Linked DNA regions of Homo sapiens. The protein of the gene in region 1 purifies or fractionates together with the protein of each later gene. This does not show direct contact. Each region holds a gene or a part of one and is shown in the gene's direction. Other genes may lie near its edges. The genes, in order: NHSL2, NPAS1 and PSMA8.

Region 1 (3,648 bases):
TAGTAGTTATAATAATAATAATAATGACATGACAGTATTAATTGTTTGTGTGTATGAGAAAACCTTTGGGGATTTGGAACATCCAAACGGTTTCCTCACATCCGTAGATTATCCTCAGCCTCTTATGTTGCAAAGCCTAAAAGTGATGGGTGCGAACAATGCAACCAGACTCTTAGCTTTGCATCTTGGGCATGCTCCAGAGTCATTGCTGGAGCCAAACGTCACACCATGCCGTCCTTAGTTCGGAAGCCTCTACTCTCATCTCTAGATGGATGAATGCTGAGGTCTGTGATGGTTTCATGAGCCTGGGGTGAAAGTATGGGGAAAATGCAAGGTAATCCCACGTGACACTTCAGCTCTAAGAGGAATAATCAAAGCTGGAAAGTATTTGGCAGCCATCTGGACCATTCAAGGGCACCGTATGTCTCACTGTGGGGTGATGGGCAAGGACCCAATTTCCCCAGCATCTTCATCCATGGAAGGGAAGAACCAAGGAATTCTGACCAAGCTGTTGGCAAATGCTTCTTGGCAAAAAGTTGGTGCTCCTGTCTCAAAACAGCTGGTGGGAGATCCCTTGCTGTAGCACTCATGTCCTGTGTTTATTTCCTCCAGGTCACAGCAACAGCCCAGCAGGCAGTGTGGCCCACTCTACCACCTCCGACATCAGGCCCAGTCACTCAGTTCCAGAAGGGGTTCATGGAAGAGTTGCAGTTGGTCAGGATGCTCGGTTCCCAAGTCTCACCTCGCCAGTACTGAGAACTCCTTCCAGTGAGCCGGACGAACCTCACCAGGCACGGAGTGGCCCAAACCCTCCTGGCATGGAGAGCATGGGAATGGTGTACAGTGTCCCCAGTTCTTGCAATGGACCTACAGAATCAACCTTCTCCACTTCCTGGAAGGGAGATGCTTTTACCTACATGACTCCAAGTGCCACCAGCCAGAGCAATCAAGTCAATGAAAATGGGAAAAATCCTTCCTGTGGGAATTCTTGGGTCTCTCTAAACAAAGTCCCACCTCTGGTTCCTAAGGAGGCTGCTACCCTCCTTGTCGCTCGTGATAACCCAGCAGGATGCAGTGGGTCAGCTGGCTACCCTGAGCGCCTTATTCAGCAAAGGCACATGCCCGAAAGACCCTCCAAGATTGGCCTTCTGACCAGTGGGACCTCGAGGCTGGAGACAGGCCCCGGTGGGGCCAGCAGATTCCGGGAGCGGTCACTGTCTGTGCCCACAGACTCAGGCACCACAGATGTGGACTATGATGAGGAGCAGAAGGCCAATGAGGCCTGTGCCCTGCCTTTTGCCAGTACGAGCTCTGAGGGCAGTAACAGTGCTGACAACATTGCCTCCCTTAGTGCCCAGCAAGAGGCCCAGCACAGAAGGCAGAGGTCCAAGAGTATCTCACTTAGGAAGGCCAAAAAGAAGCCTTCCCCACCCACACGCAGTGTCTCACTGGTCAAAGATGAGCCAGGCCTCTTGCCTGAAGGTGGGTCAGCACTACCCAAGGACCAGAGGCCCAAGAGCCTTTGCCTCTCCTTGGAACATCAAGGACATCACTCGTCCCACCCAGATGCTCAGGGTCACCCAGCTATTCCAAACCACAAAGATCCAGAAAGTACACAATTCTCCCACCACTGGTATCTTACTGACTGGAAGTCTGGTGACACCTACCAATCCCTGTCCAGCTCCAGCACTGCCACTGGCACCACAGTCATTGAGTGCACCCAAGTTCAGGGCAGCTCAGAGTCTCTTGCCTCACCTTCCACCTCCAGAGCCACTACACCTTCCCAACTCTCCATTGAAGTGGAGGCCAGGGAGATATCATCCCCGGGAAGGCCCCCTGGACTGATGTCACCCTCCAGTGGCTACTCCAGCCAGTCGGAAACACCAACACCCACTGTTTCCATGTCCCTGACCCTGGGCCACTTACCCCCTCCAAGCAGCAGTGTCCGGGTACGTCCAGTGGTACCTGAGAGGAAGTCATCACTACCCCCGACGTCACCAATGGAGAAATTTCCCAAGTCACGGCTATCATTTGACCTACCACTGACCTCTTCACCCAACCTGGATCTGTCTGGGATGAGTATCTCCATCCGAAGCAAAACTAAGGTGAGTCGGCACCACTCAGAGACAAATTTTGGCGTCAAGCTGGCCCAGAAAACTAATCCCAACCAGCCAATCATGCCTATGGTTACTCAGTCCGACCTACGTTCTGTTCGCCTGAGGTCGGTCAGCAAGTCTGAGCCGGAAGATGATATTGAGAGCCCTGAGTATGCCGAGGAACCCAGAGCAGAAGAAGTCTTCACCTTGCCAGAGAGAAAGACAAAACCTCCCGTAGCTGAGAAGCCTCCGGTGGCCCGGAGGCCTCCAAGCTTGGTCCACAAGCCACCATCTGTTCCTGAGGAGTATGCACTAACTTCACCAACCTTGGCTATGCCCCCCAGGAGCTCAATTCAACATGCGAGACCACTCCCTCAAGACAGCTACACGGTAGTGCGGAAACCAAAGCCCTCCAGCTTCCCAGATGGCAGAAGCCCAGGGGAGTCAACAGCACCCTCATCTCTTGTTTTCACGCCTTTTGCCAGTTCCTCTGATGCTTTCTTCTCAGGAACACAGCAGCCTCCCCAGGGAAGTGTAGAGGACGAGGGCCCCAAGGTGAGGGTTCTGCCTGAAAGAATTAGCCTCCAGAGCCAGGAAGAAGCTGAGAAAAAGAAAGGCAAGATTCCACCTCCCGTACCAAAAAAACCCAGCGTGCTGTACCTGCCTCTCACTTCTCCCACAGCTCAAATGGAGGCCTATGTGGCAGAACCAAGGCTGCCTCTCAGCCCCATCATCACCCTGGAGGAAGACACCAAGTGTCCCGCCACCGGCGATGACCTGCAATCACTTGGTCAAAGGGTGACTTCAACTCCTCAGGCTGACAGTGAAAGGGAGGCAAGCCCTCTGGGTTAGTAAACTGTCTGCTGGCTTTTTCCTTCAGTCACAGGAGAGATGAGGGTGAGAATGGAGTGCCAGAGATGGAAGCAGATGCCCCAGAATAATTATCCTGATCCCAAGTCAGTAGCGGGCACCCTTTGAGGGTTTGAGTTACTCTAAATAGGAACCACGGGCTGGCCTTACTGCCCTTGAGATCAAGACTAGCCCGAGGCAGATCTCCAAGGCCCAGTTTAGGCCACTCTCCCCTCTAAATCTCTAGTGCTGAGATAATGAAATCAAACTAGGTTCTAGCACCCTAGGACTTCAGCATCCCACATCCCTAGCCAAGCATGCATCCTGTCTTGGGAACTACTCCACCTCACTGTACAGTACTTTTCATTGGCTGCAGTGAATTTAGTTCCCTACATGGGACCCAGTACCCCACCAGACTGAGTTCAAGTGCCATGGCAGGCTCGGAGCCATCTGAAACAACGGAATATGTTGCCACCAGCAGCCTCTTTTTGTGCCTTCCGGAGGAAAGGGAGCTCACTTTCTTGGGTGGTTTGAGTTCTTTGGCTCTTCCTGGAACCATAAACATAATACATAATGCTTCTCATCCTTTCTTTTTCTGTCTCTTTTTGTTTTAATTGTGGTAAAGTACCCATAACATTTACCATCTTGACCATTTTTAAGTGTGCAGTTCATTCGTGTTAAGCACATTCACATTGTTAAGCAA
Region 2 (3,748 bases), on another chromosome or scaffold:
CCTGCCCAGGCTGCACAGCCAGGAAGTGCTGTCAGGAGACAGGAGCCCATGATCTGAGCTTGATTCCTTGCCCTGAAACTCTAGCAAGTCTCTCTGGGGATAAATAAGGATCTGTTGTCTGAGAGGCCACTATCACCAGGCTATATCACTTCCCCATGTCTCGGTTTCCCTAGTTGTAAAATGCATCTAGTAACAGAGCCCATCTCAGAATCTTGCTATAAAATAAAGTATTAGCAAAAAACAAGCACTCCCTTAAGTGTTAACTATGAGGATCATGAATGAGTTTGTGTGTTGTGAGCAAATGCACACGGGTGTTTGTGTGTGCCTCAGTTTCCCCATCTGCCCAACCAAAGGCCAGCGCGTGCTCCCTGCAAGCCCCTGACTGTATGCCTCTTCTAAGACTCCCTGCTCCATTTTCTTTTTCTTTTCTTTTCTTTCGAAATGGACTCTCCTTCTCTGACCCGGGCTGGAGCGCAGTGGCGGGATCTCGGCTCACTGCAACCTCCGCCTCCCAGGTTCAAGGGATTTTCCTGCCTCAGCCTCCCGAGTAGCTGGGATTACAGGCGCCCACCACCACACCCGGCTAATTTTTGTATTTTTAGTAGAGACAGGGTTTCACTATGTTGGCCAGGCTGGCCTTGAACTCCTGACCTCGGGTGATCCAACCGCCCTGGCCTCCCAAGGTGCTGGGATTATAGGTGTAAGCCACCGCGCCCGGCCCCAGCTCCATTTTCTTTCCCCATGTTAAGGTCATGTAGAGGCTTTTAAGTGCCTGGAGACCCCCATGCCAGGGAGGACCCTGAGAACGGGAAGTGGGGGCTGCATGGAGAGAAGGAGCTAGGGGAACTGTAGGACCTCCTATCAGACTGGGGAAGGCCTGGCTTGGACGCCTGGGTTCCCGTCCTCTGTGCGAGGTACTACAACCCCTGAGTTCCCATTTATGATCTAATGGGGAGCTTGGATGTAAGGGTTCCCGTCCCTGCGGCGGGGGATGGAGATAAGACGCCAGGATCCTGGTCTCTGGAGCTCCTTAGAGAGCTGGATCCTGGTCCCTGACGAGGGAGGTGTATGTCCCCCTTTTAAGGCGGGTTGGGTTTGGATGCGAAGTCCCAGCCCTGTGGGGGGAGAGTGTGCTGACACTCAGGAGTTCTCTCCCGGAAAGGGAGGGTCTCGAATTCTGGATTTGTGTCCCTGGAGGAAGCACTGACGTGAGTCTTCACTCGTACATGGGGCTCGGCTGCAGGGTACCTGTCTTGTCCCGAGGGGCTGCTGGGGCACTAACTGCCTCCTGAAGGGGTGTAGACAGTGCCCGGACTCCGCTGTTCCCCTTTTGGAGTGGGGTAGCTCCGATCCGAGGTGCTACATTCTGACCCCCGACGTTACCGTGGGGCAAGGGAACTCGGACCCCAGGGTAGCTTGGCCCCCTACCAGGGAAAGGCGAGCAGGGCGGGTCCGGGGGCGGAGACGCGGCGGGCGGGGCTCCGGCAGACCCCGCCCCCGCCCGCAGCGCTGGTCGCGCGTCTCCAAGTCTGCGAGGCCGAGGTGGGCGCCGAGAGCTGGGCGCCACAGCCCGCGCGTCCCGCTGCGCCCCGCGCGCCCCGGGGTCTATGGAGCTGCCCCTCCGCGCCGCCCGGCCGGCCCCACGCCGCGCCCGGAGCCTGCTCTGCGGCCAAGTAATCGGACTGGCGGTCCTGCGGGTAGGGGAAGCTTGCGGGCTGGCAGGAGGGGGACTTCTGGGTCCCAGAGGAATGGGGGGCTGGAACTCCAGTGTCCTGGGGGATAGGGGGTGGGACGAGGGTATCCCGAGCCTGGGGGAAGGGGCGCACGGATGTTTGAGTCCTGGAGAAATCTGGGGTTGGGAGACCTGGACACGGGGGTCTGGGGCATCTGGACACCTGGCTGGGAGGTTTGGGGGCGGCCTGGTTCCTGGGGTTAGGGGGTGTTCTGAACGCCTGGTCCTGGAGGAATGAAGACCTAACTGAAAACGTTAGGGGATCAGGAGACCAGGACACCTGGGCCCCGAGTGTCGGGTCAATCCTGGGGGCGTCCTGGGGCAGAGGCTGCGGCGGCTGCGTCCGGGGCTGGGGCTCGCGCGCCGGGGTCTTCAGGGAGGAAGTTGTGGTCGTGGGGATGTGGCGGTCCGAACACGTGGCGCCATCCCGAGAGGCTGGGGGGATCCCTGGGCAGGACACAGGATGGGGGTCCCTGCCCTCTGCCCCCTGCCTCCTTAGCCCAGCCGGGAAAACAGGGTGCAGATCCGGGGAGTCAGACACCGGGGATGGGCTTGGGGGGCGGGTCCTCGGGGCAGAGGGCTCCGGGGGCTGGGGCGTGCGTGCCTGGCCCGGGAGGCGCCCGCCCCCCGCCCGGCTTGGGCATGCTTGGCACGCAGCGCGCGGGCCGGTTCGATCCGTATGCGCGCCGCGTGCGCCCATTGGTATGCGGGAGCCGGCCCGGCGCGGGCGTGAGGCGGGCGCGCTGGCGGGCGGCGCGGGGGAGGCGGCGGCGGGGCACGTCCTCACCCGGAGCGCCAGCCCCGGGCCGGCTAGGGTGGGAGCTGAGGCCTCCAGGTAGGGGAAACTGAGGCATCATCCAGGCCCCCCCCCCCCCAGCTCCTTGCTGGGACCCTGAGCCCTGCACGGATCTCAGTTTCCCTAGAAGGTCTCCCGAGGGCACTAAGCGTTGCCCCTGGCCCCCTCCCGCTGCAGGAGACTCGGGGCTCGGAGCCCGCCTGAGCGAGCCCCCCGGAGATGGCGGCCCCCTATCCCGGCAGTGGCGGCGGAAGCGAGGTCAAATGCGTGGGAGGCCGCGGCGCCAGCGTCCCCTGGGACTTTCTACCCGGGCTGATGGTCAAGGCGCCGTCCGGACCGTGGTGAGCAAAGCCCCGCCCCCCTGGCCGCGGGCCCCCCCCCGGGTCCAATTCACACCCGATGTTCTGTCCCCGTGCCAAGGGGCAGTTCACACCCAGCTCCCTGACCCGCCCCTTAGGGCTAGAAGGTCTTACCTTGAGTTAACTACCGTCCTGAGCCCGGTCCCCTGCGTTCTGCTTCTAGTCCCGGTCCTCAGAATTCACGCCCAACATCTTTAATCTCTCGCCCTTCCTCCTCCTTCCCACCAGAATTGACACTCGAGGTTCTGTCCCTGGGTCGGAGTGTAAAATCCACACTCCGGTCTGCTCCCACCTCCAGAGATGTGGAATCCACTCCCAACGTCCCGTCCCGTTCCCAAGGCCCCGGGAGGCGGGGCTCGCCCCCAGTTCCCAAGCCCCTGAGCCCCGGGGCCCCGCCGACACCTCCTCCGCGCCGCCCGCCCAGCCTGCAGGCGCAGCGCAAGGAGAAGTCCCGGAACGCGGCGCGCTCGCGGCGCGGGAAGGAGAACCTGGAGTTCTTCGAGCTGGCCAAGCTTCTCCCGCTGCCCGGCGCCATCTCCAGCCAGCTGGACAAGGCTTCCATCGTGCGCCTCAGCGTCACCTACCTCCGCCTGCGCCGGTTCGCCGCGCTGGGGGCGCCGCCCTGGGGGCTGAGAGCCGCGGGGCCGCCAGCTGGCCTCGGTGAGTGCTCATGCGCGGGGCGAGGGTCCCGGGGCCCTCCAGGCGGAGTCACTGCAGCCCAGATCCGGGCTGCGGGCCTGCCCTCGCCCAGATGCTTGTCTCTGGAGTCAGCCAGGACCTTTGCGTGTCCCTATCAGGTGGCTTCTGCTCTCCAAGCCTCAGTTTATTAAACTGTCAAATGGGCGCAAGAGGTTGGGAAGA
Region 3 (3,648 bases), on another chromosome or scaffold:
TCTATTTCTACTGCACAATATACAGTAGAGGGGCTAGGAAGGCAGTAACTAACATTTAAGAAATACTTTAACCAGGCATTTTGTGTATATTATCTAACATTAGGGACAGTGTTTAATCCCCTTTTATTATGTGTGAAACTGTGATTCAGAAGCATTTATAGCTTGCTGAAAGTACCCAGCTGGAGAGTGATGGAACCCATATTTATAATTATTTTTTTCTAGTTCTAAAGCCCCTGCTCCTTGCATTGTAGCATGAAATTTGTTCAATAAATGTTTGTATATTAATTAGCTTCCATTATCATGAATGTAGAAATCAGATATGTATCACTTAAGGCAATTAACTTCACTAAGCTTCAGTTTCTGTAATAGTAAAAGAGGCATCAAAATAGCACTTGTGGCTGGGCGTGGTGGCTGATGCCTGTAATGCTAGCACTTTGGGAGGCTGAGGTGAGTGGATCACTGGAGGTCAGGAGTTTGAGACCAGCCTGGCCAACATGGTGATGCCCCATCTCTACTAAAAATACAAAAAATTAGCTGAGCATGGTGGTGTGTGCCTGTATTCCCAGCTACTTGGGAGACTGAGGCAGGAGAATTGCTTGAACCGAGGAAGCAGAGGTTGCATGAGCTGAGATTGCACCAGTGTACTCCAGCCTGAGTGACAGAGTGAGAATCTGTCTCAAAAAAAAATTGCACTTGCTTCAGAGAGTTGATGTGAAAGTTGAATGAGGTAATAATGCATGTGAAGCATCTTAAACAGAATCTAGTTCACAGAAAGTACTTAACAAATTGTAGTTATTATTTACTATTCTTTGTTTTCTCTTTTTTTTAAATTTTGTCTGTGGTGCTTCTCACACATTCATTTATTATTTCAAGACATTTTTGTTGAATACTTACATATGCTAAACATGATGCTAGGTCACATACAAGATAGATAGCATCACATACAAAATAGATTCGATCCCTGTCCTTAGAGATCCTACTATCTATCAGGAAAGTTAGATAATTACATAAATAGTCCTAAGAAAACCCGAATGAGTATTAGAGTATGAGGCACTATAGGAACCCCAGGTGTTGGGGAGGTCCCTCTGAAGAAATAATACTTAAGTGGACATCTGAAAGATGAGGGGCTGTCAAGTGAAGAAGTGGAAGGGGAAAGAGTGAAGAGTATTTTTGACAAAGGAAATAGCTTGTGGGAAGGCAAGTAGAAAAGGACAGCTATGTTCTGTCAACTGAAAGGCATTCAGAATTGTTGAAGCAATGGAAAAATAGAAATAGATGAAGCTAGAAACTGGTGCCAGATCATGGAATGCCATTAAACCATGTAAGTGAGGATATACTGAATGAGAGACCTTGAAGTGTTTTGATGTGGCTACTGTCAGTCTCCAGATTATTGCTCTTCTGTCATTCTATTAACAGACTACATTTGTCCAACAACAGAGATACTCACATGACCTAAGTAGAATCATTCATAATTTCTATCTTCCTGGCCACAGTGATGAGCATGTCACTCAAATCTAGCCAATGATAAGTTCACCCTTAGCAACTCTTCTGACTAGAGACAGAGGTAGCTTTTATTCTCTGGGAGAACTGTTGGGATGTGGGTCCAAGGTTCCTGGTGGCCATGTTTTTACTGTACAGAGAAAGCCTTTCCACATTAGGAAAGTGAAAAGCCAATATGCAAAGAGTACATATTAAAGTCCCTAGATCCTTTTGTCTCATGTCTAGCTCTGTGCTGTGTTGATTTGCTTAGTGACAGATGGTCCCTTTATAAGCTTTAAGTAAAGGAATGCCACATTCAGACTTTATTTTCTTCTTCTTCTTTTTTGGTCTTCATTTTATTTTCCAAATATTTCTCAGGCTACCTATGGTCAGTGAATTGGATGAAATCAAGACTAGAAACAGGGAGACCAGTTAGTATTCTGTGGAAATAGTCTAGATGAAAGATGATAACTAGCTTTTACTAGACTTGGGGGGAAAGTAAAAATAAGGTGGATTCCAGAAAAACATTAAGCAGTATACTTGTTACAATTTGATGGTTATATGGATGGTGTTGACAGAGGTATAGAAGAAGGAGGAATAAAAGTTGGTGTCCCTGTTTCTGGATGTGCCTGCTAAGTAAATGGTACTGCCATTTACTTAGAGAATGTAAGCACTAAGTTTTGGGGGAAGATAACTGTTTTGGACTTGCTGAGGTTGAGATGCTTATGGAAACTGTAGCAGACAGACTTTAAAATGGCCTCCAGTGATCCCCACCTTGTGGTGGTCATGCCCTTGTATAACCTTCCTCCCTTGGATGTGGGCTGAACTTAGTGACTTGCTTTTAAGGAATGGAATAGGTGAAAATGACGAATGTCACATCAGGGATTAGGTTGCAAAGAAATGGTGACTTCATTTTATTCATCCTTACTCGCTGTTTTGCTTGCTTACTCTGGTGAAACCCAGCTGCCGTGTTGAGTTGCCCTCTGCAGGGCCCAATGAGGCAAGGAACTGAGGGAAACATTTGTTCAAAATCTAGTAGGGAACTGAGATCCTTAGTCCAACAACCCAGGGGAACTGAATCTTGCCAACAACAATGCGAGTGAGCTTGGAAATGGATCCTTCCCCAGTTGAGCCTAGAGATGCATGCAGCACTGGTAGACAACTTGATTGCAGCCTTATGAGAGACCCTGAGCCAGAGGAATTAGCTAAACTGTGTCCCGATTCCTGAACAGAGACTGTGAGGCAGCTGAAAAGTACATGTTTGAAATTTAAGAGATTGATTTTGGCTGGAAATAATAATTTTGAAGTGCATTGTTTCTCTCCCCTGTTAAAAACCTATATTGAAGGTCAAGTAAATGCATACTCTTGAGTACCCTTCTGTGTTCAATAAGACTAAATATAGACTATAGACTAAGCCGAGGATAGTCTACAACTGAACCTTGAGGAACCTTAATGACCTTTGTAATTACCTTGACTAAACTCTGAGAGAAGAGGGATAGAAACCAGGTTGTTGTGGGCTGAGGGATGATGACAATATTTGACTTGAAGGGCTTGAAAGAAAAAAGGTGGGATTAAAGTGGAATGGTCTTAAAATTAAGATAAAAGAGACTAACATAGGTTTCTGTCTGTTCGTTGAACTTCTCAATTTGTTCGCATAGTGTTTTCCTGATCTCGCTTGTTTATCTCTGTACTCTTGTAGCTTACTGAGCTTTTAAAAGATTGTTACTTTTTAATTCTTTGTCAAGAAATTCATAGATCTCCATACTTTATTTTCTTCCTTTGGTAGTATCATGTTTCTCTGATTGTTCACGATTCTTGTGGCCTGGCATGGATGTCTGCACATTTGAAAAAGTAAGTACCTCTTCAGATTAGCTTCAGCAGGAAAAGTTCTTCACCAGTTAGCCCATCCAGAGATTTGGGGTGGGCCTGCCACTAGAGTCCTTTGGCAGGCTGGCGTGATGCCTAGGTCAGCAGGCAGGCTGGCTTGGCACCACAGGTGCCAGCCTTGTACCAGGGCTCACTGGGGTGGGCCTGGAACCTGAGTCCACAGGAGCAGACCTGGAGCTTGGATCCATGGGGTCCATGGAAAAGTCAGATACCCACGTTACTCTCCTTACCACACATGGATGGTATCTCTCTCTGCACTGTGTTGCTGGGCCTTGAAGGACA

The links.
Region 2: the proteins of NHSL2 (region 1) and NPAS1 purify together in Homo sapiens (affinity purification with mass spectrometry; one large-scale study listed by BioGRID and IntAct). This does not show direct contact.
Region 3: the proteins of NHSL2 (region 1) and PSMA8 purify together in Homo sapiens (affinity purification with mass spectrometry; one large-scale study listed by BioGRID and IntAct). This does not show direct contact.

What each region holds. Positions count from the first base shown.
Region 1 is NC_000023.11:72,137,829-72,141,476, forward strand, and holds part of NHSL2 (NHS-like protein 2), read left to right. Parts: intron 1-612; coding exon 613-2,943; coding exon of another isoform or gene 2,944-2,948; exon of another isoform or gene 2,949-3,534; intron 3,535-3,648.
Region 2 is NC_000019.10:47,018,301-47,022,048, forward strand, and holds the start of NPAS1 (neuronal PAS domain-containing protein 1), read left to right. Parts: upstream 1-1,536; 5' UTR 1,537-1,697; intron 1,698-2,705; 5' UTR 2,706-2,747; coding exon 2,748-2,869; intron 2,870-3,311; coding exon 3,312-3,547; intron 3,548-3,748. UniProt on the Homo sapiens protein: May control regulatory pathways relevant to schizophrenia and to psychotic illness. May play a role in late central nervous system development by modulating EPO expression in response to cellular oxygen level.
Region 3 is NC_000018.10:26,136,780-26,140,427, forward strand, and holds part of PSMA8 (proteasome subunit alpha-type 8), read left to right. Parts: intron 1-3,265; exon of another isoform or gene 3,266-3,306; coding exon of another isoform or gene 3,307-3,330; intron 3,331-3,648. UniProt on the Homo sapiens protein: Component of the spermatoproteasome, a proteasome specifically found in testis that promotes acetylation-dependent degradation of histones, thereby participating actively to the exchange of histones during spermatogenesis.